Linked DNA regions of Homo sapiens: region 1 is linked to region 2. Evidence: fine-mapped expression QTL. A gene starts in region 2. The other region holds a variant in brackets. All regions are shown on one strand. Distances are between the middles of the regions.

Region 1 (16,920 bases), 580 kb before region 2:
CAAGCAGGAAAAGGAGTGTTGTAAAGGGCAAAGAAAGATCGCTAAGGCAGAGAAGAGGAGGGAGGAAGAAGGGAAGGAGAGAGGGAGAGGTAAGGAAGTGAAGAGGAAGATGAAGCTAGGTCTTGATTTGCATATATTGAATCTTTTCCAGGCCTCCCAGCTCTGGCACCAGATTGGGATGGTGGCCTGTCCCCAGTGAGAAGGAGGTGGCAAGGAGGCTGTCTCTTGCACTTTGCAAGATGCTTAAGGTGGGCATGAGTAGATTGGGTGAGGTGTGAGGAGAAAAGGGTAGGCTCAGGAAGAAGATGGGGGTGGTAGGGAGCAGACAGGAGGAGAAGGGAAGCGGTAGGCTGAAACCACACACGTTCACATTTGCATGGATTTGCTGAGGTGTGCTGCAGAGTGTCTGCTACTGATGGGGGTGGGTGTCCAGGAGAGGAGGCATCTCCCTTGATGACTTGGAAAGTGTTGGATGTGTTAGGACAGCAGTGTGGAGCTGCTCTGCTGCACAGATCTATGTGATTTTATAGTACACTGGAGAGACTCACATCCTGCTAGATGTGGTTCTCTCGTTCTACATACCACAGGCTTAGACAACCACGAACCAGCTCGGAACCCTTCTTCTGTATGAGCACTCAGGGAGTTGTCCCCTTAAATTCAGAATCAGGATCCTATCTGATCCTTGCATGGGGGACCGCTGAAGAATTTGGTCTCCCAGAACTTGGTAGGAAAACATTCTTTTTTTTTTTTGGAGATGGTGTCTCTGTTGCCAGGCTGAAGTGCAGTGGTGTGATCTCAGCTCACGGCAATCTCTGTCTCCTGGGTTCAAGCAATTCCCCTGCCTCAGCCTCCCGAGTAGCTGGGATTACAGGCGCGTACCACCACAAGCAGCTAATTTTTTGTATTTTAGTAGAGACAGGGTTTCACCATGTTGTCCAGGATGGTCTCTATCTCCTGACTACCTGACCCGCCCACCTTGGCCTGGGATTACAGGCGTGAGCCACTGCGCCCGGCTGGAAGGAAAACATTCTGAGTGACCGTGTATGTAAATAAGTCTTTCTGGTTATTTTATTCTGTGAACCTGTGTGATGTAATGACTGCATTTAAATAGTATTACAACAAAAACTAATTGTAATAATAGTAAATAGCTAACATCTTTAAATGTTTGCCATGGGCCAGGCACCGTGCTAGGCCCTCGGCAAGTATCACATCACCTAATCCTCCACTTCAATCTGATGCAATAGATGTAGCTATTCATTCCTATTTTACAAACATGGAGACTGATTTAGATGGGTTAAGTAATTTTTAAGATCTCCTGCTTAAAAAGAAGTAGAGTTGAGATTGGAACTCAGGTAGCCTGATGTCAGTACCTCTGCTCTTGGGTTAATTTGTAAGCTTCTGAACTCTGGCTGGTATGCATTTTGAATGAGGTCTTTTGAGTCTGATTGTATTACTCTGTGTGTCACCTTGAGCATATGTGCTATCATGTTCCGCCTGAAGGTGCTAGATGGCTGTCTTCCATTTGGTTTGTTTCTTAGTATAAGATGGACCAGAAGAGGAGCACTGCTTTGCGCAACTCCAGGGTGCGTCATTCACACTGCAGTCCATGCAGGGGCACTGGCCATGCCCTGTGTGAAGGAAGGGAAGGAGCGGGAGGGAGGGAGTGGGAACAGGAGGGAAGGGATAGATAATGGCGGGTAGTGTTCTTTGAATGATATGTGTACCCATTTGTGACAACATCTCTTAAAGTTGAAGGTCTACACATGTGTATCCATATTAGCATATGAACTTCATCAGACAAGCACTCTCCCTCCAACAGAGGGAGACCCTGTCTCAAAAAACAAAAAAAAATAGCCTTTAGAGTCAGACAGACCTGGAATCAAATTCTAGTTCTGTTTCTTAATATGTAAATGACCTCAGGTAAGTTGCGTAAAGTCTCAATTTAGTCTCTTCATATAGAGAATGGGGCAGGCCGGGCACGCGCCTATAATTCCAGCACTTTGGGAGGCCGAGGTGGGTGGATCATTGGAGGTCAGGAGCTTGAGACCAGCCTGGCCAACACGGTGAAACCCTGTCTCTACTAAAAATACAAAAAAAATGAGCCGGGCGTGGTGGCATGCACCTGTAATCCCAGCTACTCAGGAGGCTGAGGCAGAAGAATCGCTTGAACCCGGGAAGCAGAGGTTGTAGTGAGCCGAGATTGCACCACTGCACTCCAGCCTGGGTGACAGAGTGAGACCCTGTCTAAAAACAAACACATCAGAAACAGAAAACAGAAAAAAAAAAAAAAAAAGGGAATGGGGAACTCATGGAGTTGAGTCCATTGAGAGGATCATCATTGAGATTGGCACTTTGGGTGTATCAATAAATGGAAATGGAATAATTATTCATCCATATGCCTTATTTCCTGTGTTGGGGTATGTGTATGTTGTTTTTTGATTGTATGTGGGGCAGCTGGTAACCTGGCTGTAGCCCTGTCCCAGTACTTCTTTGGGGTTGGTGAAGGTGCTTGTTCTCCCTGGCTGGATTTTCCCAGGCCCTCCATGTACACGTGTGTGGGCCCTGTGCTTCCCTTTCAGTAGTAGGGTATCCTGTTCAGTGTGTTGCTGTGAGCCCGTATGTGGTTGGCCCGGCTGGCGCGGGCGTGTTTAGGGTGGTGGTAATTACTGGGATGGCCCAGCCCTAATGAGTGTGATCTCGTTACACTCTCGCTGCCTCTAATGGCGCTAACCTCATTTCACAGCCATTAGAGATGGAGATGAGGCCCCGCCCACTGGCCCTGCCAGCTGCAGCTTTTGCAGCCCTGGCCACGTTCTTTCCCTCCGGCTCGCCATTTCTCCATTCCACTTCTCCTTCTCCCACCTTTTTTTTCTGCTCCTCCTACCAGGTTTCCCTTTCCTGTCCCCCATTGTTCTTTTCCCTGGCCGTTTTTCTGCACCCCTCTCCTCTTTCATTCTCCTTTCATGTCTCCCTTCCCGCTTCTCTCTTCGATTCTGGGCTCCTCTTCTCTTCACTCATCACCCTCCCTTTTTTCTCCTCTAGTCAATTTGTCCTCCACATTGCCATTTCTCCATCCTCTTTTCCTTCCCTCTCCCCCGCCCTTCACGGCTCCAGTTCCTCCCCTCCCCCACATTGCCCTGTCTGGCCAAAGGACAAATCTCAAGGGGAAACCAGCAAAGACAAACAAGGAGCAGTGACTTCATTATCGTCGTTAATTTGCCACTTCAGTTCCTCCCATAAGGGTCAAAGCCAGCACTGCTTGAACTCAGGACTGACACGCAGGCCGAGACCATGGCCTGGCTTTTCAGCCCTACTTCTTACACAACCACTCGTCCGCCCTCCTCAGCTGTCTTCATTTCCCTGCGGAGGGGTCAGGCTTCCTGTTTGCTCTCCAATTTCTTAGTCCTCACAGCCTACTGCACTCCTTCCTTTCTCATTTAAATTGTGGCCATCTCTCTGTGCTCTCTCCCATCTCCAAGTCATGGGTTTTTCACCTTTGACTCCTATCTCTGTCATACTCTCTCCCAACTTCTCCCTGCCTAATCTTTCCAGAACCTCTTTCTCATCCTTCCCTGGCCTTCTCTCTAATTTCAAGTGCACTTCTTTCCCTAAAGCAGCAGGATTTATCTGTAGGTTTGTGGAAACCACATAGCCTGAAGAAGCTGGAGATGAGAAGAAAGGCATCTGTGGCCCAAGCAGACCACTGATACAGAACACAGAGATGGCTGGGGGGAAATGCAGACAACTGTGATGGAGGCAAGAGAAGCAGCAAAATCTAGACCCATGCCCATGGCCCAGGAATAAAGAAGACAGAGGCTTGAGATTAGGGAAAGAAAAGGGCATCACAAAACAAGGAATGAAAAATCTGAGGATGGAAATGGCGTTTACCCCATCAGGTCCTCGGGGAAACACAATCTAACACTCTTGGCCCACCCTCTGCCCTCCTTCACTGAGAAGCCAAATGACTGGTAATTGACTCTTGACCTCTAGCCCAAGCCCAGCCCCAAAGGGAGAGGTCCAGGGCAGTTAGCTATGACTGGAGGAGGCACTAGGGAAATGTGCATACATGAAGTTAAATTCCTGCCTACACCCATTCTGCCCCACTGACTTTGCACATCAACGTGCTCCACAGGACCAGACTCTCCATGCATAAACTGCTCTGCAGAGAGGTCTTGCACACCCTGGAACATTCATGTCTTTCTGATTGCACAGGCCCCTGTGCATGCGACATTCCAGTTGATGGTCCTGCTGGGAATTCCAAGGCCTGAACTTTAGCTTTGATGTAATCCTGTGTTCCTGCCAAATACAGAAAGAGGGCTCCTGTTCTCTCATTAGACTTTGGGGTAAAAAATGCTGAGGGGTGCTGAGCATCTCAGTAGAAATTAGAAAAATATATCTTCCTCCAGGTGTATGCAGCCCCCATGCCAGTGGTACAGCTTGGTGACAGGACTGTGGGTGGACCTCAGCCCTGTCACCCCTTAACAACTGCACATGAGGACCCTGGTCTCTGGACTAGTTCCTACATGAGGAAGCCACTGAGAGCCCATGGGATTACCCTACGGGGCTGGAAGTTACTTCTAAATCTTTCACCCCTGCCTTGCCAGCCTGGGGAGGAGGGATGGGCAGGCAGTTCCCTAGGACTTTCCCCAGAGAGGCAAGGGGCTCTGGGAAAGTGGGTGGTGGGCTGACCGAGCTTAGTGTGAGGAGCTCGAGAAGAAAGATGGAAAAATCAATGAAATGAGTTTCTAACGGTGAGGTAAAGGACCACTGTGTCGACAGCCTGTCGCTTGCTGCAAAATATGAGCTGCCCAACTCCGTGGCGGTGGCTGACAGTGCAACAGCCACCACTGTCCTTCCTTCAGGCCCCCCGCCCACCAGCCCCTTCTTTAGCTGCCCTGGCCTTGCTTATTATAGCCAGACTGTCCTCCAGCACTCCCAGCTCTCTCCCCTGTCTTCTTTTGTAGATTTCTCAACCCATTCAGGGGCTTTTTGGCCCTTCACCTCGTGATTCCTGATTGGGTGCATGTTTGTTTTCTATAGCTTCTGTGTATTTAGACCTCCTCTTTCTGCAGATTTTGCTCTGAGAGTTGTGGTGAGTTTTACATCTCTTGCCTCCCCCTCTTCTAGATACCTCTGGAGTCTTTCAACAATGGAGAGTCAGATGTCAAGGCCATCCCTCACAGGGTTCTTTACATCAAGATCTGGGCAGCAGTAACTTCTCCCTCCTTTGGCCTTTTGGCCCACATGGCCAATGCTGCCTTCGTTGTATTAATAATTACCTGGCTTGGGATAGGTGTTTAGAATGGGTCTGGTATTGATTTATGAACTCCTTATTTGCGGCCATTGTATATATACGGTTATGACCAATTCAATTGTAGTTTCATGATTGGGAATGGGGTGGGGATGCTACTTTTAATTCACATTTGCCAACTCTCTCTTTGGAAACAACTCTCAACCTTTTCTGGAAACCGCCTCCTTTCTCTTCCCTCCTCCACATCTTCCTCTTGGGCTCCTAGGGCTGTTCATTCATGTTTTCCTCCAATTATCACTACAAAGACTCTGCACATGAGCCCTGAGAGTTCCCCTGGCTGCCTCCAAGTGTGACCCTAACCCAGTCTCTCCTGTCTGCCTCAGATCTCACTGTCACTGGTTAACTACCCTCCAGCCATTCCCTCCGGTTTCTGATTTCCCAGTTTGCCCATTAATGTAGACTTAGGTGGGGGGAGTGGGTGAAAATTAGGTGGGCAACTCTTTCCCCCAGCCTCTCCCTACTAATTCAACGTTTGATCAGTAGATATTTATTAAGCCTTTTCTGTGTGACAGACACTGTGCTAGGTGCTGGAAAACAATTGGAAACTAGACAGATGTAGCCACTCCTCAGATGACCATGTGACTAACCCTGAGTCTCTCACCAGACAGCTAAGTCTCTCAGACTAGGGGACTCTGTCCCATTTCCCCCCTTTCTGTACAGCCAAATTCCACTGTGCCCTCTGGCATTTCACAACCCTTCCCTTTTCTCAATCCCTGAATGAGTTTACACTCACACAGCCCCGATCCCTTCCCTCTGCATTCTAGCTTTAGTCTCCATTCCTAAACCCAAAGCCATTACACTTTCAACAACTCTCCTCCCCACTCACAAAGCCCTTCTCCTTTCACATTCTGTAACTGCCATTTCTAGTCCTCCTCTTCCGTCTCTGCCTGCCTTTTGATCCAACCATCCTGACCTCAATGCCCTGTCTTAGGTTCCTTCCTCTTGCTACTGTCAGGCTCTAGCAAACCTCAGGTGCTCACAAACAGGAGTTATTTGTGACAACTGTTGTTCTGAGCTGGGAAGAGCTCCAGGGAGGCAAGGTCAAGCTACCAGAGTCAGAAATCCTACCAATTCGACCCAGGCCCTGGCCCGTAGGTGATACAGCACCCCGGCAAAGCAGCAAGTGATTCCTGTATGGGTCTCAAGGTAACACCAGCTGCCTCTGACATCATGGAGGGAGGAACCCTGTCAGGTTGCCAAGGCAATACCAGCAATTTATGACATCAGAGGCTTGAGGTCTTTGGTTCTCAGGGGCTGGGAAGATTCAAGTTCCTCTCAGCTGAAGTTTATGGGAATTCTACTTTTTCATCTCTTTGCTTGTGTTCTGGCTTGGGAATGAAATACAAAGGCCTTTCGTGGGGGTAGTGAGTGATTAGGCCAATGAAATGAATGCTCGTGAGGTTCTCTCTCTCTCTGTCTCTTCCCTGGATATTTCTGCTTTCTCTCCCTCTCTTGGGCATTTCTCTCTTCTGGGGCTTCGCCCAGTGGTATTCCTGCTATTTGTGCTATGCTTTTTTTCCAACCCCCCGGCGCCCCCGCAGTGCTCTCGCTCTCTTCGCATCAGTCACGCTGTGTCCTCCTCACACCAGAGGCATTTGTTTCCTTTGATACCTCATCCTCTCCTCTTTTCCTCCTACCAAGCTCTGTGCAGCTCTGATCTGCCTCAGCACTCCTTCGTTTGCCATCCATTTACCTTCTTTGTACCATACTCTCTTCCCATCTCATCTTGTTCAGCAATTCCTCCCTTCCCCCTCTTTACTACTGTATTAATTTCATAGTGCTTTTTCTGTTGACCTCCACTTTAGGAATATTCTATCATTTCTCTTCCTTTTACCTTCTGTATTGCTATCAACACGTTTTGTTTCATTCTTCCAATTTCTTATTAATCACCCCTTGGTTCCTCCCCTGCCCCCGAGTCCGCATAGATTTTCCTCCCTTCCTTTGCACATCCCTCACGTCATACATTTCTCTACCCCATGTGTTTATTGCACCGACCACCCCTTTCTTTCTTTAATTCTGTTCACCTCTGAAATCGTCCATCTTCTGCCCATGTCTGCCTGCTCCTTTTACCTTTCCAAGCTCCTGAGGTTTGGAAAAACAATGATGGGCTAAAAACTAAGGTAAACTCTCCAGATCCTTTATCCACCCTTACTGTTCTTCAGGCTAAATGAACTTGGCTCCTTACATACGATAGCTTTTATTACACTAATAAACACTGCCTCATTAAAAAAAAATGGTGCTGGATCTAAATATGATAGTAGCAGGGGCCTAGGAAGAAGATGAACTAAAAAGTGAAGAAAAAGCAACTGATATCTAGAATGAACTGAAGGATGGGGGGCAACCAGGCAGGGTGGAGCTTAGAGTCCTAGGGAATGTCCCCTTACAAAATCAAAGTTGACAGTTAACTGACATAATGGCACTGACTGATGGAGGGGTTATATGCCCCTGGAAGCTCATTAAATTTATTTCTTGGCCTGTTTATGTGCCTTCACAAACCATACCCCACACCTCTCCCAGCCCTTTGCTTGCTGGTACTTTCTGCTGCTGGGGTTAAAATGCTGGATAAGAGGAAAAGGGATAAAAGAAACTAGAAACTTAGGGTGATCAAGAAGAAAAGGTAGGAAGAGGGCAGATTATGGGAACAAAGGTGGAAACTCAGAGCTCATGGGAAACAGATGGAAAAAAGGGGTGAAGCAAAATGGGGAAATAAAAAATATACAATGATACAGTGGGGGAAGGGAGTAAAATTAAGTCAGCAGGGAAGAGGTTTTGTTGTGCGAAGCTCCTGGAAAGGCAGATGACACGCATGAGACCAGAAGGTGAGGTTCTGATGAGGGAGACAGGCACATGGCAAAGGGGACAGTCAACAATGCTAGGAAGTTCCAAAGCTTCTCTGGTGATGGTGGAAGAGGAGGCTGTCCTGGCCATGCTGAAGGCACTAGAGGCTTTGGCGAAGACACATTTGCTCCATCATCCCACTCCTCCAGGCCCTGACTGTGACCACCACAATCATGACTGATAAGCAAATTCCAAAGTAGCCTGAAAAGGCCAGAGATATCCAGACAGACTCTGAAGGAGAGGGCATGGAATCCTAGACCGACAGAACAGGCAGCCAAGGCGTGACACATAGTGATAGAGACACACAAGGAGAGGATCACTCAGATGGGAAGGGTCACAAGTGGAGACAGTGACATACAGATCCAGAGATGGATGGGATGGAAGAGACAAGATGAAGAACAGCAAAACCAAAAGTCAGGGACACATGGACAGAGATCAGCGGGGCTACAGGCACAGCGAGGAAGCGTGGTCCTGTGCTTGAAAATGATAGGGCTGCTCAGAGGGGCAGACGAGCGGATGGGGGTGGTAGGATGGGCGTGCAGGACAGACACGCTTCACCTTGAATGGGCTTATGGCCTCCCCTCACCTACTCAACACTTTCAAAAAAAGGAATGGAAAGCCCAACTTCAGCCAAAAACGAACGAAGACTGAGAGTATCCACGTCCCCTCCCACTCCACGCCCCAGCGCGCTAGCCCATCCATCAGCCCGCCGGCCGCGGTTCTCCCATCCCACAGCCGGCGGGGGGCCGCCGAGACCCAGGACCCTCCAGGCTGACAGCTCTGAGCCCTCACACTCACCGGGCCTCCCCTTCCCCCCGGGATCCCCGCTCCCTGCCCAACTCGGCGCGGTCCGTCTAGGCTTTCCATACCCTTCGTCTGTCC[G/C]GCGGGCCTCTGCCTTTCCCGTTCCCGTTTCTCCCTCCACCCCCGCATCTCTCTTCCCCCATCCTCGCGCACGCCCTCTTCCTCCCACACCCCTGTCTGCTATCTCCCAGGGCTCTCGGTCTGTCTGTCCGTCCGTCCTTGTCCCCTCCCCCAGCCCCTTCCCGTCCCTCTCCGTCCCCTCCAGCGGCAGTCTCCAAGCGCCTCCTCTCCCGTCTCGAGCTTCCAAAGAGCAAGGAAGGGAAGAAGAGAGAGAGGGAGAGGAGAAAAAAACCAACCCAGCAGCATCGGAAATCGATGCACTTACACCTCAGCTGGAAGCAGGGACGGGAGTCGAACCGCGGCCACCGAGCAGCGCGAGGCGGGGAGGGGAGGGGGCGGCTCTTGGAAGGGACTTCTCCGATGTGTTGATTCCTCTTTTTTCCCCTCCTCCTCCCTCCCTCCAGCGCTCGCTCCGGGGCGTCAGGGACGGAGACGGAAAAAAATAAATAAATAAATTCACGGCGGTGAGGGAAGTGAAGGAAAATAATCAATGCTATTTGGCTGCGGCTGAAGTGTTTCCCCGGCTTCGTGAGGGGGTTTCCATTGATTCACCCTGGGCACTCGCTCGCTCCCTGCCTCCTCCTCCTCCTCCTCCTTCTCCTCCTCGCCCTCCTCCTCCTCCTCCTCCTCGCCCTCACTCCTCCGCCTCATTCACTGGCTGGAGTCTAGGCGTCCCACACAATGGAATAATCAATACCCAGGCGCCCGGGGCTGCCCCACTGAGCAGGTGCAGCGACCCGCCCGCCGCGGCGCATGCCGGGAGTTGTAGTCTGTTCGCGCCCGCCCGCCTGCCTCGCGGGACCCAGGGCCGGGGGCAGGCCGGCCAGCCCACCAGGTCGCCTCCAGGTTCAAGCCGGTGCCTGCAAAGAGGGCAGGCCCCTTTAAACTCTTTTCCGTCTCCTCTCCTCTTCATCCTGTGGCCTGCAGAAACCATACATGTGTTTTGTTGTTTTGTTTTAAATCAGCTTCAGAACAAGCCCTGAGCCGCCCAAGGCCTCCTTTTTTCATTCTCTTCTTCCTGCCTTATTATTCCGCCTCCCCCATCTCCCCCCGCGAAATTGGGTACTAGAACCTTCTCTACCGCAGCAATTACTCTTTAGTCTCTGAGAGCTTCTGCCTCCTCCACACGGTTACATAGTCCCCTGAGCTGGGTTGGGGGAGGTTCGGGCTCCTCCTCATCTTCAGTTTATCGCTTATTAAGTGCTCCTGAATTTTTTTTTTTTTTTTTTTTCTGGAGACGGAGTCTCACTCAGTCGCCCAGGTTGGAGTGCAGTGGTGCGATCTCGGCTCACTGCAACCTCCACCACCGGGTTCAAGCGATTCTCCTACCTCAGCCTCCTAAGTAGCTGGGATTACAGGCATGCATCAACACACCCAGCTAATTTTTGTATTTTTAGTAGAGACGGGGTTTCACCACGTTGGTCAAGCTGGTCTCGAACTCCTGACCTTGTGATCCGCCTGCCTCGGCCTCCCAAAGTGCTGGGATTACAGGTGTGAACCACCACCGCGCCCAGCCCGTTTTTTTGTTTGTTTGTTTTTTTCTTGAGACAGAGTCACTCTGTCGCCCAGGCTGCAGTGCAGTGGCATGATCCCGGCTCACTGCAACCTTCACCTCCCAGGTTCAAGTGATTCTCCTGCCTCAGCCTCCCAAGTAGCTGGGATTGTAGGTGCCCACCACCATGCCCTGCTAATTTTGTATTTTTAGTAGAGACGGGGGTTTCACCATCTTAGCCAGGCTGGTCTCGAACTCCTGACCTCAGGTGATCCACCGGCCTCAGCCTCCCAAAGTCCTGGGATTATAGGGGTGATCCACCTCACCCGGCCGCTCCTGTATTCTAATAATAATTTTTAAGATTTCTTGAATGCACAGGGACAGTTCCAAGCACTTTTACATACATTGTTTACTCCTCTCAATACCTCAAGCATGAGGTAGATGCTATTATAGTCTCATTTATTGAGGAAACTAAGGCACAAACAAGTGAATTAACAGGCCCAAGGTCCAATGGCCAATAAGTAAGTGACAGTGCCAGGACTCAAAAACCTCCATGGTCTGGCTCCAGGGCCCATACTAACTGCTATAGCCTACTTCTCTTAAACAACACAACAAAACCCTGAAGTTCACATGACAAAAAGGAGAGATAAATGAACATTTTGAGTTTATACTATGTGACAGTTTATGACTGAATCCTCACAGGTAACTGTGAGGCAGGCCACATTTTCTCAATGAAAAAGCAGAGGCTGGCCGGGCATGGTGGCTCACTCCTGTAATCCCAGCACTTTGGGAGGCTGAGGTGGGTAGATCACCTGAGGTCAGGAGTTCGAGACCAGCCTGACCAACATGGTGAAACCCTGTCTCTACTAAAAATACAAAATTAGCTGGGCGTGGTGGTGGGCACCTGTAATCCCAGCTACTCGGGAGGCTGAGGCAGAAGAATCGCTTGAACCCGGGGGGCAGAGGTTGCGGTGAGCCAAGATCACACCATTGCACTCCAGCCTGGGCAACAAGAGTGAAACTCCGTCTCAAAACCAAAAACAGGCCGGGCGTGGTGGCTCACACCTGTAATCCCAGCACTTTGGGAGGTGGAGGCGGGTGGATCACAAGATCAGGAGATCGAGACCATCCTGACTAACAGGGTAAAACCCCATCTCTACTAAAATTACAAAAAATTAGCCGGGCATGGTGGTGGGCACCTGTAGTCCCATCTACTTGGGAGGCTGAGGCAGGAGAATGGCATGAACCCTGGAGGCGGAGCTTGCAGTGAGCCGAGATGGCGCCACTACACTCCAGCCTGGGCGACAAAGCGAGACTCCGTCTCAAACAAACAAACAAACAAAAATTAGGAGGGTGGGGTGGCACGTGCCTGTAGTCCCAACTACTCAGGAGGCTGAGGCGGGAGAATCATTTGAACCCAGGAGGCAGAGGTTGCAGTGAGCTGAGACGCCAGAGTGAGACTCTGTCTCAAAAAAAAAAAAAAAAAAAAAAAAAAAGCAGATGCTTAGGAAAGTGGAGTAGCTTGCGGAAGGCCAAACATCTAGAAAGTGAAGCTGGGAGTCGACCTCAGGTCTGGCTCCGGAAACTGGTCTTTCTGTTCAAATAAGCTGCTGCTTTTGCCCCACTGGATTGGATCTTATAACATAAGGAAAAATTAGGTCTTCATCCCAGGTTAACAAAACCGGAAAGCAAAAGATGGATGAAAAGCAGGCTTTAGGAGCTGGGGTTTCTTCTCTCCCTAACCAACAGTGCTTAACATGGAGTGGGGACAGAGGTTGACCCAAGCTACTCCAAGTTCAAGATGCCATTTGTTTATTTATTTATGCACAGGGTCTTGCTCTGTTGCCGAGGCTGGAGTGCAGGCAGTAGCAGGATCGTAGCTCACTGCCCTTGACCTCCTGGGCTCAAGCTATCCCGCTGCCTCAACCTCCTGAGCAGCTGGGACCACAGGCATGCACTACCACACCCGGCTAATTAAAATTTTTTTTTTTTTTTTTTTGTAGAAACAGGGTCTTCCTATGTTGCCCAGGCTGGTCTCAAACTCCTGGCCTCAAATGATCCTCCTGCCTCGACCTCCCAAAGTGCTAGGATTACAAGTGTGAGTCAACACACCTGGCCAAAATGCCATGTCTTTAAACCAGTGTCCTTCTCCCTATAATACCTCTCACTGGTCATGTATTTCCAGAAACATACTGGTGAGAGGGCAGGTGTTGAGAACATGGCACTTCTCACCCATCATAGGAAGGAGTCCAGGAGTTAAGAGCCACGGTTCCTCAGGGAGCTTCCTCACATGGAAGGTCAGACATATAGTTAGAGTCTCCAGATAACCATAGTCCTCAGAGGGAGTAAGAAGGAATCATCTCTATTAATATTTTGTCTCCCAAAGCATTCAAAGGGCCAACCCCCATGTTTTCCTGAATTTTATTTTTTTGGGGACAGATGGAGTCTCGTTCTGTCGCCCAGGCTGGAGTGCAGTGGCGCCATCTCAGCTCACTGCAACCTCTGCCTCCCAGGTTCAAGCAATTCTCATGCCTCAGCCTCTGGAGTAGCTGGGAACACAAGCACGCGCCACCATGCCCGGCTCATTTTTGCATTTTTAGTAGAGACGGCGGGCCGGGGGGGTTTCTCCATGTTGGCCAGGCTGGTCTCGAACTCCTGACCTCAGGTGATTCACCTGCCTCGGCTTCCCAAAGTGCTGGGATTGCAGGTGTGAGCAACCGCACCGGCCTTTCTGTATTCTAAATGAACATAAGTAGTTCTACACCTGACAAAAACTGCTTAGGGACCGCTGGAAACTCTGACAAACTCCTCAGTCTAGCACTCAAGGCTTTTCCCTCAACTGCATTTCTAGCCTCGTCTTCTCCTTACGTACCACCCAGGTGCTCTCCAGTTTCTGGGCCTTTGCTTAGGCTATTCCTGTCTCCATCTAGGTCTCCAACTGTTGAAATACCATCATATCTTTAGTTCCTGGCCAAAATACCACTTTATTCTCTGACAGAAAGTTTCTCACCCACTCTTACCCTCAACGTTCATGCCAGGAGGTATTAGATCCCCTCTAAAACTCCAGAGTAGCTAAACTGGACTTTATTACGCGCTGCCCCCGCCCCCTTCCCTCCCCCCACCCCAACCCCCCTCGCCACCATTGCCACTGGCCTGCGCTTAGCTGGCTGCTATAGCAGATATCTGTTGGACGGTGTGAATGGCTTGTATTCCAGGCCCATCTGCCTGCGTTGGGGGTGCGGCGGGGGGTGTTGGAGACGGGACTGGGGCTTGAGCTCCTTGCACCCGACTCTCCCCGCCGCCTTGTAGCCCCAGTTCAGCTTTAGGTAGAGTACCGCAGGCACCAAGTGCAGCTTTCCTGTCGCCATAGCGACGGGCGGGGCGAGATGGCAAAGTCTCCCTTTGGAACTACATCTCCCATCATGCATCCGCGCCTCGGGGTGCCTGGCTCAGCCTCAGGCATGAGACCTGTACCAGCCCCCGGGAGCCGTGCGGGGCCAACAATGAGGAGCAGAATGCAAGGGGCGGCCTCGCTCCCCTGGCCACCGCGGGGGTCGCGGCCTCCCATTACATAGCGCGTGTCTCGAGCCCTGGCCTGCTCTCGGCACCGCCACAACGGGCGTAATATGGCCGCTGGTGCCGGGACCTGCCGGGCGCGCGGAGGGTCGGGCCGAGGTCCGGGATCCGGAACTGCTCCCGGCATTCCTCGCGAGTGTATGGCGTGGGCTCCCTTCCCCCTCTGTGGGTCCCGCGAGGAGACTCTCGGGCTTTGAGGTGAGACCTGAAGTTCCGCTGGCCGGTAGTGTAGCAGGAAAGGGCAGGTCCTCCCGGGTCGTGAGCCAGTAGCCTCCTGGGGTGGCAAGGTGTAGAGAGGGGGGCGTTGAAAGGACACCCGCTACCCGGCCTGCTTTCTAGGGGTCTCTTTGGATTGAGGACATCAGCAGCAGTGGAAGGGATTTTACTGGAGACCTGTCACTGTCAGAGCCTTAAAATATCACCGACGGGGCCTTAATGTCACCGAGGTAGAGAGAAAAGGGCAGTAGCCCTAGAGACTATTGCGACACAGTGTGCCCCTCATAAGTTTTTCCAGGGAGGGGTTCTGTACTGAGTTGACGCCCCAGGAGCTGAGCACCAGGCTTTGCATCCTTGGGAACTCAGCAAACGTTTGTTCAGCCAATTGCAGGTAGCATGGCCCAGGGCTTGATTGAGGTGGAGCGAAAGTTCCTTCCAGGGCCTGGCACAGAGGAGCGGCTGCAGGAGTTGGGGGGCACCCTGGAGTACCGGGTCACCTTCCGAGACACCTACTATGACACCCCTGAGCTGAGCCTCATGCAGGCTGACCACTGGCTGCGACGACGAGAGGATAGTGGATGGGAGCTCAAATGTCCTGGAGCAGCAGGTGTCTTAGGACCCCACACGGAGTATAAGGAACTCACAGCGGAACCTACAATTGTGGCCCAACTCTGTAAGGTGCTGCGGGCTGACGGCCTGGGGGCTGGAGATGTGGCTGCTGTGCTGGGCCCACTGGGGCTGCAGGAAGTAGCTAGTTTTGTGACTAAGCGGAGTGCCTGGAAGCTGGTGCTCTTGGGAGCTGATGAAGAGGAGCCACAGCTCAGGGTGGACTTGGATACAGCCGACTTTGGCTACGCTGTGGGTGAGGTAGAGGCCCTGGTGCATGAGGAGGCTGAAGTACCAACTGCCCTAGAGAAGATCCACAGGCTCAGCAGCATGCTTGGTGAGGGAGACAGGCCCTTTTGTGCTTTTCCTGCTCCCCACTTTTCTCTTTTGGAGGCACCTGCTGGACCATGCAGTGGGGGAGGGCCTCCGGATTAAAAATTTTTTTTTTAATAGAGACAAGGTTTTGCCGTGTTGCCCAGGCTGGTCTGGAACTCCTGGACTCAAGCAATTTGCCTGCCTCGGCCTTCCAAAGTGCTGGGATTACAGGTGTGAGCCTCTGTGCCTGGCCTGGATTATTTTTGTAATGGGAATTGTTTTAGCAATTTTCTAAGTTTGCTTACAGTTCTGTGAAATCTCGTTTTCTCTTTAACAGTAGCTAATTTGGATCTAGTCCTTCCACGTGTCTAATTCCAGCCAACCTGCCTCATTTAGTTCTCATACCTATAGCCAGATCTCCTTCAGTTTCATTTCTCAGTTCCCTGCTTTGACTCTTCCTTCCCCCAATCTCTTTTTTTTCTTCTTCTTCAGTCACCACTCCTCCACAAGGAGTAAAAAGTAAGCCTTTTTACAAAAGCTGCCCTCTGGGAGGCTCAGACCCAGGATCTTCAGATCATGAGACTGATGCACTGCCCACTACACTGAGAGTCCAACCAGTCTTGTCCTTTTGTTTTACAATTACCTAGATCCTTTTAATTTGTCCTTTTGGCTTTTTGTAAAGGACAATAACATTATAGTTATGTGAGACAGTGGGGCATGATTTGGCAGATTTGTTCCTAAGCATAATTCCCTTGTAGACAGTTCATCCACACTAGGAATTGTGCATCCCATGGGGCCTTACAGCCCTGCAGTGCTGTTTGAGCCCCCTCAGCAAACATACACTGAGTTCCTTGCTATGTGCCCAGCATGCTGCCAGGCACTAACAACAAGACACTGGCAACAGGCAGTTCCATTCTCACCTCACCATGTAGAGGCGAGAATTCTATGTGAATCCCACCCCATGGCTATAGCTTCCCTCCTCTTCTTTCTATAGCTCTTGGTTTCTATGTGTACATCTCTGCATGTGCTTCATTACTAAGCTAATGAGCTTTGGCCTGGTCTAGGGCTTTAATCTTGATTGCGGAACAGGGTAATAACTGAAATGAGCTGACGCTGAGGCATCCTTCGTTTATCTTGGTGCCTGGGTGCCTCTTCGCCATTTCTCCTTGCTGGAGGAGAGAGGCTGAGGTGTGGCTTCTAGTCCCACTCTTGCCTGAAGTTGCTCTTTTAGGTCCCACTTCCACAGGCAGGCAGGGAGTGGACTAGTGTGTTACAGAAGCTGGGTGGGTGACATTCAGAACCCCAGTGTGGCTTTGGAAACATCCACGGAGTCCTGGCTAGGTGGGCAGGGAGCAGAGTCCAAGTGCTTGTGGCTCTGTCCATTTCTCTCCTCATTGTCCTTTTACCTGTAGGTGTGCCTGCACAGGAGACAGCACCAGCCAAGCTGATTGTGTATCTACAGCGTTTCCGGCCTCAAGACTATCAGCGCCTGCTAGAAGTGAACAGCTCCAGAGAGAGGCCACAGGAGACTGAAGATCCTGACCACTGCCTGGGCTAGGGGTGTCACTTCCTAGAAGGGGAAGGGAACTCTGGGTCTAACGGAGTCCACTCCTGGGCCCACTGTGCCTCTCCCCTCAGTGTCCCT
Region 2 (13,581 bases):
AAGCTCCCAGGGGACAGCTCCTTGATGACCTACCGGGGCCACGGAGTGCTGCACACCCTCATCCGCTGCCGGTTCTCCCCCATTCATAGCACTGGCCAGCAGTTCATCTACAGTGGCTGCTCCACTGGCAAAGTGGTTGGTAAGGATTGTGTCAGAACAGGGGGCCTCAGGAAGGGCAGGAATGACTCCTTGCCATTCCACCTATAACGACTAGTGACCACCTTAAAAAGCCCAGTGACAGCTACAGGTAAAATCAAACTTAGCTTGGAGGCTTAAACAGAGAAATAGAAACCATTCTATTTTTCAGTGTTTTAAATTAAGAAAAGGAACATAGAATTCTAGACAGTAAATATAATAGATTGCCAAAAATATAGTTGGTTCTGTTTTTCAGCCAGTCAAGAAAGAGGTTGCAGATGAAAGGTAGGAGGGAACAGAGACAAAATGACACAGGAAGATGGTAGCAAGTAGTTAAGGGACATGCAGTCGCTAAAGCAGAAAAGCATAGAAAGAAATAAGCTGGCTGCAGTGGCTCATGCCTGTAACCCCAGGGCTTTGGGAGGCCAATGAGGGCAGATCACTTGAGCCCAGGAGTTTGAGACCAGCCAGGGCAACATGGAGAAACCTTGTCTCTACAAAAAATGGCTGGACATGGTGGCACAGGCCTGTAGTCCCAGCTACTTGGGAGGCTAGGGTGGGAGAATCACCTGAGCCCGAGACTGCAGTGAGCCATGATTGTGCCACCGCACTTCAGCCTGGGTGACAGAGTGAGAAACTGTCTCAAAAAAAAAAAAAAAAAGGTCGGGCACGGTGGCTCATGCCTGTAATCCCAGCACCGTGGGAGGCCGAGGCGGGCAGATCACCTGATGTCAGGGGTTTGAGACCAGCCTGGCCAACATGGTGAAGCCCCATCTCTATTAAAAACACAAAAATTAGCCAGGCATGGTGGCAGGCGCTGGTAATCACAAGCTACTTGGGAGGCTGAGGCAGGAGAATCGCTTGAGCCCAGGAGGCTGAGGCAGGAGAATCGCTTGAACCCGGGAGGCAGAGGTTGCAGTGAGCCAAGATCGCGCCACGGCACTCTAGCCTGGGCAACAAGAGCGAGACTCCATCTCAAAAAAAAAAAAAAAAGAAAAAGAAAAAAAAAACCAGAAGCACAGCTGCAGATACAAGGAGCCTAAGGCAGTGCTGTCCCTAGAGAGACACTCACAGTCCCATGACAAAAGAAAGATGCACCCTGTCCAGATAAGGTGCAGCAGGTGCACACACCCCCAGACAGCTCATTGTTCACTTTTGTGGTGCCTTCCATATCTTACTAAAATCTTCAAAGCCAGTGCATTTCCTTAACTGTAGCCCCTATGAAATTTAGCTAAGGGCCAGACATACCCACACCACTAAACCATACCCTCAACCCAAGGTATGGAAAGGAACAGGGATAGAAGCAGAAATAACACAGTCTTCTGGTGTGGGCTTTGCTCCCATGGGAACATGGGAAGTTGCCTGAGAGGCAGGTCAGTGGTGCTACTCATGGGGAGGTGAGGGATAGTTTAGATGTCTTGTGGTGGTCCCTCTCCACTCTTGCCTGTCCTGGACAGTGTACGACCTTCTAAGTGGCCACATTGTGAAGAAGCTGACCAACCACAAGGCCTGTGTGCGTGACGTCAGTTGGCACCCCTTTGAAGAGAAGATTGTCAGCAGTTCGGTGAGGTTGCAAGGGTTGAGGGTGCTGGCACATGTCTGGGGCTTGGACTTGGGTGGGGGCAGCACATCCTGACTGCTTGCCACCCTCTGCCCTGCAGTGGGACGGGAACCTGCGTCTGTGGCAGTACCGCCAGGCTGAGTACTTCCAGGATGACATGCCAGAATCTGAGGAATGTGCCAGCGCCCCTGCCCCAGTGCCCCAATCCTCTACACCCTTTTCCTCACCCCAGTAGATCCAACCTCCAGCCCCATATAGGGTGAACCTCTTGATAAGCTCTCTGCCTCCTCCTCCCTTTCTCCCTTGTGGGGAATGTTTGGAGGAATCACTGGCATTTGATGGGGAATAACATAAGCCTGGGCTCTGAGCCTCAGCTGAGCCCTGGAAGATTCTCCCCATGGGGCAGAGTGGTCTCCTTACGTGCTCACACCCAGTCAGCTTGGGTCCCTATCTCTGGCCAGAGTTTGGCAGGACTGCCATTATCTGGGGTGTGGCCTCTGCCAGCAAGAGAAGTGTCCTGGGTGTTTTTAATCATGTTTGAATGTTAGGGGTTGGATCCTAGAGTAGATGCCTGAGGCCACATCTGAACAGACCTGTCAGCCAGGCCTGCCAGGTCTTCACGTTGAGGATTCAACTGGCCAATCACAGGACAGGTGTCCTGGCCTTTCTTCCTGAGGTCTCTAGGGGAGGGGCATGGGTAAGGGTGTTTCCTCAGCACCCTCCTGGGGTGGGGATTATGTCTGCTGTCATGTCTGGGTCTTTAGGGTAGGACAGGCTGTGGTATGAGAGGCAGGAGTCTCCACAAGGCTTCATGTGGCCCCTTATAGGGCAGGCCCTGCCCTCTGGGAAGGTCCCTTCATGCTGGAGGCACACAGCTTTAAGGAAGTAGGTTGAAGTAGGACTCCTTCGTCCTCTCACTGGCTTTGGCTCCCTCAATAAACTGTGTGGGAACCTGGCTCAGTGTCTGTCTCTCTCTCTCACTCTCTGTTTTTCCTATCTGAGGTCTTTCATCTCCTCACTTCAGGAAAACACAGTTCAGCAAAGTCTTCAGATGCGATCCTGTGTAGGAGAAAATACCCTTCTGGTGCCCCATGAAAAAGGGAAATACCAAAACCATTTGTTCACTGAGCCTTGCAATAGGTGCTCCCTTACCAATTTCAGAAGCTTCCCTGCAAGTAGATATCGAGAGAGCACACTTTCCATTAGAGCCTGGTAATACCCATATCACCTCTGCTCTGAGGCTGGGCCTGCAGCTGTGTAGTCTTTGGAAGAGGTAGCCCCTGAACGCAGAGCCTAAGAGAAGCAAGTCGGCCCTGACGCCAGGCCCCAGTGGGCGCCTCACACTCAGAACCTCATACCCCAGAGCAAACCGATGGTCAGGGAGAGGGCTAGAGCTCACACCCAGCTCGGAATAGATCTTCCCTGATGACATTTCATGCCCTCTAAGGCAGTTTTTAAATGAAGGTACACACATCCAGGGGTGTTCACAGGCTTTCACAGCAAGGGTACCTATTTCATGGCAAAATAGGCAGTTTTAAAAGAATAAACAAGCTAGGTGTGGTGGCTCATGCCTGTAATCCTAGCACTTTGGGAAGCCAAAGCTGATGGATCGCTTGAGCCCAGGAGTTTGAGACCAGCCTGGGCAACATGGCAAAACCCCATCTCTACAAAAAATACAAAAAGTAGGCCGGGCACGGTGGTTCACACCTGTAATCCCGGCATTTTGGGAGGCCGAGATAGGTGGATCACCTGAAGTCAGGTGTTTGAGACCAGCCTGGCCAACATGGTGGAACCCAATCTCTACTAAAAATACAAAAAAACTAGCCGGATATGGTGGCGGGTGCCTGTAATCTCAGCTACTTGAGAGGCTGAGGCAGGAGAATCGCTTGAACTTGGGAGCAGAGGTGAGCTGAGTGCAGTGAGCCAAGACCATGCCATTACACTCAAGCTTGGGCAACGAGAGCAAAACTCTGTCTCAAAAAAAAAATTAGCCAGATGTGGTGACGCATGCCTGTAGTCCTAGCTACTCAGGAGGCTGAGGTGGGAGGATCACCTAAGGCCAGGAGGTCAAGGCTGCGGTGAGCCGTGATTGTGCCAATGTACTCCAGCCTAGGTGACAGAGTGAGACCCTGTCTCAAAAATAAATAATAAATAAATAAATGTTCAGATCCTTGGCTTCTGTGTTCTCATTCCTCAAATTGATCTACCTAGTGTGAAACTCCCGTGCCAGATCTCCTTTCCCATCCACGCTTTTCATTCCCCGTCTGCCAAGTGATAAAGTTACCTAAGGTGCTACCCATCTCACCCAGAACCTGTGTTACTTCCAGGGCACCAAATTAAGAGAGAAATTCAAATTGTTAGTATCCTTATAGCTTCATTAGATCAAAGCCCCACAGACCGACCATTCTCAGTAAGAGATGCATTTACAATATAATTTTATGTTATCGAAGTAATGTAAAATGTTTGTTGTACAGGCATACCTAGGAGATATTGTGAGTTCATTTCCAGACCACTGTAATAAAGTGAATATTGCATAAGGCGAGTCAATTTTGTTGGTTTCCCAGTGCATATAAAAGTTATGTTGTTTTTAGGCTGGGCACAGTGGCTCATGCCCGTAATCTCAGCACTTTGGGAGGCCGAGGCAGTGGATCACCTGAGGTCAGGAGTTCAAGACCAGCCTAGCCAACATGGTGAAACCTCGTCTCTACTAAAAATACAAAAATTAGCCAGGTGTGGTGGCAGGCGCCTGTAGTCCCAGCTACTCAGGAGGCTGAGGCAGGAGTATCGCTTGAACCTGGGAGGCGGAGGTTGCAGTGAGCTGAGATCGCACCACTGCACTCCAGCCTGAGCCACAGGGTGAGACTCTGGGGAAAAAAAAAATTTTGTTTTGTTTTGTTTTTTTTTTTTTGAGACGGGGTCTCACTCTGTCACCCAAGCTGGAGTGCAGTGGCATGATCTCAGCTCACTGCAGCCTGGACCTCTCCTGGCTCAAGCAGTCCTCCACCTCAGCCACCTGAGTAGCTGAGACTACAGATGCCCACCACTACACCTGGCTAATTTTTGTGTTTTCTGTAGAGATGGGGTTTCGTCCTGTTGCACAAGCTGTTCTCAAACTCCTGGGCTCAAGCGATCCTCCCACTTCAGCCCCCCAAAATGCTGGGATTATAGGCATAAGCCACTGTGCCTAGCCATGAATGTTCTTAATGGCATCTGGAATGGTGAATCCTTTCCAGAAGGTTTTCAGTTGACTTTGTCGACAGCTATCAGAGGAATCACTATGGCAGCTGCAGTCTTACGAAATGTTTTTTTTTTTCTTTTTTTTTTTTTTGCTTGATATAGGGTCTTGCTCTGTCGCTCAGGCGCAGTGGTGCACTCAGCTCACTGAAACCTCTGCCTCCCCCTGGACTCAAGCGATCCTCCCACTTCAGCCTCCCAAGTAGCTGGGACTACCAGCACACACCACCCACATCCAGCTCGTTTTTGTTATTTTTTGTAGAGACGGGGTTCGAAATGTATTTCTTAAAGAGTAAGACTTGGCCGGGTGCAGTGGCTGACACCTGTAATCCCAGCACTTTGGGAGGCCGAGGCGGGTGGATCACGAGGTCAGGAGATCGAGACCATCCTGGCTAACACAATGAAACCCCGTCTCCACTAAAAATACAAAAAAATAGCTGGGCGTGGTGGTGGGCACCTGTAGTCCCAGCTGCTCAGGAGGCTGAGGCAGGAGAATGGCATGAACCTGGGAGGCGGAGGTTGCAGTGAGCCGAGATCGCGCCACCGCACTGCAGCCTGGGCGACAGAGCAAGACTCAGTCTCAAAAAAAAAAAAAAAAAAAAAAGTAAGACTTGCAAGTCAAAATTACTCCTTGATCCATGGGCTACAGAATGGATGTTGTGTTAGCAGGCATGAAAACATTAATCTCCCTGTACATCTCCAGAGTTTGTAGGTGACCAGGTGCATTGTCAATGAGCAGTAATATTTTGAAAGGAATCTTTATTTCTGAGGAGTAGATCTTAACAGTGAGCTTAAAATATTCTGTAACCCATGCTGCAAACATATGTGCTGTCATGCAGGTTTTGTTGTTTTATTTATAGAGCACAGCAGAATACATTTAGCATAATTCCTAAGGCCCTAGGATTTTCAGAATGGTAAATGAGGATTGGTTTCAACTTAAAGTTACCAGGTGCATTATCTCCTAATAAAAAGAGTTAGTCTGTCCTTTGAAGCTCTGTAGCCAGGCCTTGACTTCTCTCTAGCTGTGAAACTTCTATGTGGCATCTTCTTCCAATAGAAGGCTGTTTTGTTTGCTTTGAAAATCTGTAATTTAGTGTAGCCACCTTCATCAATGATCTTAGCTAGATCTTCTGGATAACTTTCTGCAGATTCTATATCAGCACTTGCTGCTTCACCTTGCATTTTTATGTTATGGAGGTGGCTTCTTTCCTTGAGCATTATGAACCAACCTCTCCTAGCCTCCTCACCACTCTCAGTCTTTATAGTATTGAAGAGAATAGGCTGGGCTCAGTAGCTCACACCTATAATCCCAGCACTTTGGGAGGCCAAGATGGAAGGATCACTTGAGGCCAAGGGTTGGAGACCAGTGTGGGCAACATAGTGAGTGTTGGCATGCACATGTAGTCCCAGCTACTTAGGAGGCAGAGCAGGAGGATTGCTTGAGCTCAGGAGTTTGAGACTGCAGTAAGACATGATCATGCCACTGCACTCCAGGCTGGGCAACAACGCAAGACACTGTCTCTTAAAAAAAAAAAAAAAAAGAGTTGGGGCCTTGCTCCAGATTAGGCTTTGGTTTAAGGGAATGTTGTGGCTGCTTTGATCTTCTATCCAGACCACTAACACTTTCTTGATATCAGCAATAAGGCTATTTCACTTTTGTATCATTCATGTGTTCACTGAAGTGTAGTACCTTTTAATTTCCTTTAAGAACTTTTCCTGGACAGGTGCAGCGGTTCACTTCTGTAATCCCAGCACTTTAGGCAAAGACAGAAGGATCACTTGAGCCCAGGAGTTTAAGACCAGCCTGGGCAACATAGTGAGACCCCTGTCTCTACAAAAAATTTAAAAATTAGCCAAACTTCGTGGCCTGCACCTGTAGTCCCAGCTCAGCGAGAGGAGGATCACTTGAACCAGGGAGGTCAAGGCTGCAGTGAGCTGCAATCATGCCACCGGATTAGGCTTTGATTTAAGAGAATGTTGTGGCTGCTTTAATCTTCTACCCAGACCACTAAAACTTTCTCCATGTCAGTAATAAGACTGTTTCACTTTCCTGACAGAAAGTGACCCTGTCTCAAAAACCCCAAAAACTAAGGTATTCATGTACTAATAATATATTTTAGACTACTAACAGTTACAATGAAAATAGAATCCATAGGAAAAAAATTAACTCTTAGGGCTTTATGGTCACAGGACATTTCTATTTTATTTATTTTATTTATTTTTATTTTTTGAGACAGTCTTGCTCTGTTGCCCAGGCTGGAGTGCAGTGGTGTGGAATGCAGTGGTGTGATCACTGCTCACTGCAACCTCAAATTCCTGGGCTCAAGTGATCTTCCCATCTCAGCCTCCTGAGTAGCTGGGTGGGTGCCACCATCTTTGGCTAATTTGTGTATATTTTGTATAGATAAGGTTTCACCATGTTACTCAGGCTGGTCTAGAACTCCTGGGCTCAAGTGATCCTCCTGCCATGGTCTCCCAAAGGACTGGAATTGCAGGTGTGAGCCACCACACTGGGCCCAGAAACTATAAAAAATTAAATTTTTTGGCTGGGCACGGTGGCTCACGCCTGTAATCCCAGCACTTTGGGAGGCCGAGGCAGGCGAATCACTAGGTCAGGAGTTCGAGACCAGCCTGGCCAACATGGTGAAACCCCATGTCTACTAAAAAAAAAAAAAAAAAAAAGTAGCTGGGTGGTGGCGGGCGCCTGTAATCCCAGCTACTTGGAAGGCTGAGGCAGGAGAATCGCTTGAACCCAGGAAGCAGAGGTTGCAGTGAGCCAAGATCGTGCCACTGCACTTCAGCCGGGGCGACAGAGTGAGACTCCATCTCAAACAAACAAAAAATTAAATTTTTTGAGTTACTTTTCTTGCAGAGAAATGTGATAAATGGTCAATAAAAGACTTTCAGGCATAAAAACATATTAGGATAAATTCTGTGAGGGAGTAGAATGGAAATATAATTTCTGATGTAAAATCTTGTCATGTTTTAATGGATAAAGGTGAAGTATCTAATCACTGTAGTATTTACATTTCATTGGATACATTTGAAACAGTGATATAATGGATTTATTTTGAAATGTCAGTATATGATACACTAGAAATTATGTCCTTTGCAACTATTTAAAACCACAATGAGACCAGGCATGGTAGCTCATGCCTGTAATCCCACCACTCTGGGAGGCCAAGGCAGGAAGATCACCTGAGGCCAGGAGTTCAAGACCAGCCTGGTCAACTTAGTGAGACTTTGTCTCTACAAAATAAATATTGAAACAAGGTCTCACTCTGTTGCTTAGGCTTGGAGTGCAATAGTGCCATCACGGCTCACTGCAATGTCAACCTCCTGGGCCCAAGTGATCCTCCCATTTCGGCCTCCCAAGTAGCTGGAATTACAGGCACGTGCCACTATGCCCAGCTAATTTTTTTAATTTTTGTAGGGACGGCGTCTCACTGTGTGAGACCAGCTCAAGGTGGTCCCGAACTCCTGTGGCTCCTCAGGCTGGTCCCAAAGTGCTGGGATTACAGGCATGAGCTACCACACCTGGCCAAAAAATAAAAAATAACCAACCATGGTGATGCATTCCTGTAGTTCTAGCTACTCAGGAGGCTAGGGCAGATGATCACTTGAGCCCAGGAGTTTGAGGCTGCAGTGAGCCGTGATAGCACACTGCATTCCAGCCTGGGCAAGCGTGAGACACTGTCTCAAAAAAATAAATCATAAAACTTTAATAAATAAAAATGAGTGGAAAGAATTTTTTTTTTTAAGACGGAGTCTTGCTGTTGTTGCTCAGGCTGGAGTGCAATGGCACAATCTCGGCTCACTGCAACCTCCGCCTCCCGTGTTCAAGCGATTCTCCTGCCTCAGCCTCCAGAATAGCTGGGATTACAGGCGCCCGCCACCGTGCCCAGCTAATTTTTTTATTTTCAGTAGAGACGGGGTTTCACTATGTTGGCCAGGCTGGCCTCAGGCGATCCATCCACCTCAGCCTCCCAAACTGCTGGGATTATAGGCGTGAACCACCATGCCCAGCCTAGTTCAAAATTCTTTTATAGGGTTCATTGAAGGTCACTATTCCAAGGTATGGGCTTTAGGATCTGGAAGGAATCTGATTGATTATCCAATCTGTCTTGATCAGTTTATAAAGGAAATTGATTTACTGAGGACTGAAGAGGGTTCATTGATTTTCCTAAAGTCACACAGTTGGGCCCAGAACTCAGGTGTCCTTGCTTGCTCATTCCTTTCACTACTTCCGCTGTGCTCTGAAATCCCACCACTGGTTTTGAGGAATGAGGAAGAAAGAAAAAGTGATCTCGAAACAGTTACTGACTAACAGGCACTCTCCGTGGATAGGTAGCTGACTGCCCTGCTGTCGCCGCCTCAGCAGTCAGACTGGGAGGGCAGGCTTATATGGAGAGCCCTGAGGCCCAGGGTAGTTGGTTGGAGGATGGAACTTAAGGTTTCAATTGACTCCTGTCTGGCAATTGCCCTTTTAGGGTCTCCTCTACCTCTGTCACCTGGGAGTAAACCTAATCTTTAGGGATCTGAGGGTCAACGTGATCAACAGATGAAACCGCCAGTTTATACAGCAGCCCTGGGCCAAACTAGTCCCTTAGAGACCCTCAATCCAGACAGGAACTAGGGCAGAGCCAAGCTGCTGGGGTCACAGGGCACTGAAGTGGATACCCATGCTGATCTGCCTCCCAAGGCCTATGATGGCCACAGTGCTGTGCACAGCCACCTTGCTGCATCCTGCTGTTGGTGGGCTCTTGTGCTCAGAACCCCAGGAGAAGGGCTAGATCACACTGATAAGACTGGCAGCTTTTTTTAAAAAACGACTTTCAAGGTTTGGTTATTTTTATCTCCATGACCTCTGATTTCCCTGTGGAGCAAATGGTAAAGTAGGGGTGGGTGGAGAGGGACTTTGGCAGACTATGGACAAGGACAGCCCTGAACAGCTGGCCCTGTCACAGGAACTGGAACATGGTCGGAGCCAAGGACACAGGACTAACAGGAAAGGACACAGACTGCTGTCAGGACACATACTACCACACACCCGAGGCCAGGACCCTGCTGACGTGGCAGACCTCCACCCTGGCCCCTTACTGCCCCCCGCCCCTCTCCCCCACCTGCCAGCTGCCAACAGGGCTCTGCCTTGTGTCTGCCACACCTGTCACTGCCTATCCTTGTCCAGGGGGGGCCCCATCAGCCCCTCCTCAGCTGCCCAGCAAAGCAAGCAGTTAGTGGGGAGGGGAGGGAACATGGAGCGGGGGCCGGTGGTGGGGGCAGGACTGGGGGCCGGGGCCCGAATCCAGGCACTGCTGGGCTGCCTGCTCAAGGTGCTGCTCTGGGTGGCCTCTGCCTTGCTGTACTTTGGAAGCGAACAGGCCGCCCGCCTTCTGGGCAGCCCCTGCTTACGGCGCCTCTACCATGCCTGGCTGGCAGCAGTGGTCATCTTTGGGCCGCTTCTGCAGTTCCATGTCAACCCTCGGACTATCTTCGCCAGCCACGGCAACTTCTTCAACATGTGAGTCCACTCAAGGCTGTGGGAGCCGGGTCCCTGCACTCTGGGATCCTAGCTCCCTTCTCCAGGCTTCTGTCCTCCTGCCAGTCTGAACACTAAAAATAGGCTAGGAGGTTGAGGAAAAGGTCGGGGGAGGGGGAAGGGAACAGAGCCCTGGGGTACAGGGGAAGTTGGGAACAGGACTAAAGAGGAAATATGGACCCTGGAATGCTGAATTGTCTTCCAAGGAGATAGCAAAGGTTAAATGACTGGGGGCTGTAAAGGGCACGGCAAGGAGAGAACGAGTGATGATGTGTAGGGTTGGGGAGAGTGCAGTGATGGGAGCACAGACCAGGGTGGGAGATGGAGCTTGGGGTCTCAATAGTCTCCCTTCTTTGCCCACAGAAAATTTGTGAATTCAGCCTGGGGCTGGACATGCACTTTCTTAGGGGGCTTTGTGTTGCTGGTGGTGTTCCTGGCTACACGGCGCGTGGCAGTAACTGCCAGACACCTGAGCCGACTGGTAGTAGGGGCAGCCGTGTGGCGGGGAGCCGGCCGGGCCTTCCTGCTCATCGAGGACCTGACTGGCTCCTGCTTCGAGCCACTGCCCCAGGGTCTGCTGCTCCACGAGCTGCCTGACCGCCGCAGCTGCCTGGCAGCCGGCCACCAGTGGCGAGGCTACACCGTCTCCTCCCACACCTTCCTGCTCACCTTTTGCTGCCTGCTCATGGCAGAGGAAGCAGCTGTGTTCGCCAAGTACCTGGCCCATGGGCTTCCTGCCGGCGCCCCACTGCGCCTTGTCTTCCTGCTGAACGTGCTGCTGCTGGGCCTCTGGAACTTCTTGCTGCTCTGTACCGTCATCTATTTCCACCAGTACACTCACAAGGTGGTGGGCGCCGCAGTGGGCACCTTTGCCTGGTACCTCACCTATGGCAGCTGGTATCATCAGCCCTGGTCTCCAGGGAGCCCAGGCCATGGGCTCTTCCCCCGTCCCCACTCCAGCCGCAAGCATAACTGAAAGAAATAAAAACCATCGGGCCTGGCTGTGGCTCCTCTCATCATTTGGTTGGGTCCTTGAAAGGGTGGGAAGAGGGTCTGGTAGTCACTAGGGTTCCCCAGCCATTCCTTGCTCTCATCAACCTTGAATGTCCTTCCTTATGCTTGACCTCCATCCCTCCAGCTGTCCTTTCAGTCTCCTAGTTTTTGCAGACTTCAGGCTATCTGGGGACTGAGACATCCAGGAATGGTGCTTCTAAGGTAATGCCCTTAGGTGTGGGCATCATTCTTGCTGAGCAGTTGCTCCATCTCCAGCCTGTTTGATTGTTTTTCCTGCCTTCTCCACTGAATCTCCACTCCCTCTCTTCAGGGGCCTACCTATCTGGGCACTCCTCGCAGGGACTTTTCCTACCCTGTCTTCCCCGTAGGGGGTCTGTATGTGCTCATCTATTTAACAAATGTTTATTGAGCTGAGCATAGTTCTATGCCATGTAAATAAGACAAGATTTCTGCTGTTTGGAGGCATATGAGCTAACTGGGGAAGGCAGATAATAGATCACACAAATAATAGCAAAACACTTGCACTGCGTTTACTCTGTGCCAGACACTGTTCTAAGTGTCTGTAAGTTCTTTATAAAAGTTAACGCATATGGCCGGGCGCGGTGGCTCACGCCTATAATCCTAGCACTTTGGGAGGCCGAGGTGGGCAGATCACTTGAGGTCAGGAGTTCAAAACCAGCCTGGCCAACATGGTGAAACTCCATCTCCACTAAAAATACAAAAAAAAAAAAAAAAAATTACTTGGGTGTGGTGGCGGGCGCCTGTAATCCCAGCTACTTGGGAGGCTGAGTCAGGAGAATCCCTTGAACCCGGGAGGCGGAGGTTGCAACGAGCTGAGGTTGCACCACTGCACTCCATCCTGGGCAACAAGAGTGAAATTCCATCTCAAAAAAAAAAAAGTTAACACATTTGGTCCTCACAACAATAAAAGTATGAGGTAGGTTGTACTGATCTTGATTGGCAAAAAAAAAAAAAAATTGAGATAGTAGTGTTCCCATTGTACAGTTGCAAACACTGAGACACAGAGGTTAAGTAACTTGTTCACAACTAATAAACAGAGGAGCCATGATTACAAAGCTAGATAATATGGGTATATCATCTATCCTCTAAACCAGGAATTAGCAAACTTTGGCCCTCCTGTGGCCAGTTTTGTATGACCTGCGAGCTAATAATTATATATGTATAATATATATATTTATATATTATATATATTATTATATATTTTATATATAATATTTGCATATATAATATATATATAATTTTTTTTTAAAGACAGAGACCTGGCAGTGATGGCAGTGTAATCCCAGCACTTTGGGAGGCTGAGGCAAGAGGATCACTTGAGCCCAGGAGTTTGAGACCAGCCTGGGCAAGATGGTGAGACCCTGTCTGTATAAAAATTTTTTTTAAAAGGTAAAACATTTTTTACATTTTTATTTTTATTTTATTTTTATTATTTTTTTGGAGACAGAGTCTCACTCTGTTGCCCAGGCTGGAGTGCAATTCTGGCTCACTGCAACCTCCACCTCTCAGGTTCAAGCGATCTCCTGTCTCAGCCTCCCGAGTAGCTGGGATTACAGGCCCCCACCACCACACCCGTCTAGTGTTTGTATTTTTAGTAGGCACAGGGTTTCACCATGTTGGCCAGGCTGGTCTCGAACTTCTGACCTCAAGTGATCTGCCTGCCTTGGCCTCCCAAAGTGCTGGGATTAGAGGCGTGAGTCACTGTGCCCGGCCATTTTTACATTTTTTAATGGTTGAAAAAGCAAAAGAATAAGAATATTTTATTACAGGAGAAAGTTACATGAAATTCAAATTCCAGTGTCTATAAAATGTTATCTCACCAAACTAATTCATTTACATATGGCAGCTTTCCTACTACAATGGCAGAGTTGAGTAGACAGACACTGTAAGGCCTATAAAGCCTAAAATATTTACTCTCTGGCCCTTTATAGAAAAAGTTGGCCAGACGCGGTGGCTCATGCCTGCAATCCCAGCACTTTGGGAGGCCGAGGCGGGCGGATCACGAGGTCAGGAGATCGAGTCCATCCTGGCTAACATGGTGAAACCCCGTCTCTACTAAAAATACAAAAAATTAGCC

Direction of the effects. Alleles are on the strand shown, and positions count from the first base shown. SD is a standard deviation of normalised expression in the study named.
For the expression in cerebellar hemisphere of the gene that starts at base 9,281 in region 2, G is the high allele of the variant in region 1 and C is the other (large effect, 0.85 SD a copy in GTEx).

Evidence for each region.
Region 1: its variant is fine-mapped to the expression of FITM1 in cerebellar hemisphere (GTEx, PIP above 0.99).

The regions. Positions count from the first base shown.
Region 1 is chr14:23,542,008-23,558,927 of GRCh38, forward strand. It overlaps ZFHX2 (zinc finger homeobox 2), which reads right to left and starts at 9,758. Exons shown (of 10, transcript NM_033400.3): 1 at 9,336-9,758. It overlaps THTPA (thiamine triphosphatase), which reads left to right and starts at 14,264. Exons shown (of 2, transcript NM_024328.6): 1 at 14,264-15,297; 2 at 16,688-16,920. The coding sequence starts at 14,751. The coding sequence ends at 16,833. RefSeq lists enhancers at 3,306-3,930, 5,803-6,426, 8,550-9,212, 10,062-10,111, 13,644-14,578 and 2 more and a silencer at 9,692-9,931. The variant G/C (reference allele first, on the strand shown) is at 9,032.
Region 2 is chr14:24,121,379-24,134,959 of GRCh38, forward strand. FITM1 (fat storage inducing transmembrane protein 1) reads left to right here and starts at 9,281. Exons shown (of 2, transcript NM_203402.3): 1 at 9,281-10,451; 2 at 10,833-11,469. The coding sequence starts at 10,186. The coding sequence ends at 11,445. It overlaps DCAF11 (DDB1 and CUL4 associated factor 11), which reads left to right. Exons shown (of 15, transcript NM_025230.5): 13 at 1-139; 14 at 1,593-1,699; 15 at 1,797-3,864. The coding sequence ends at 1,931.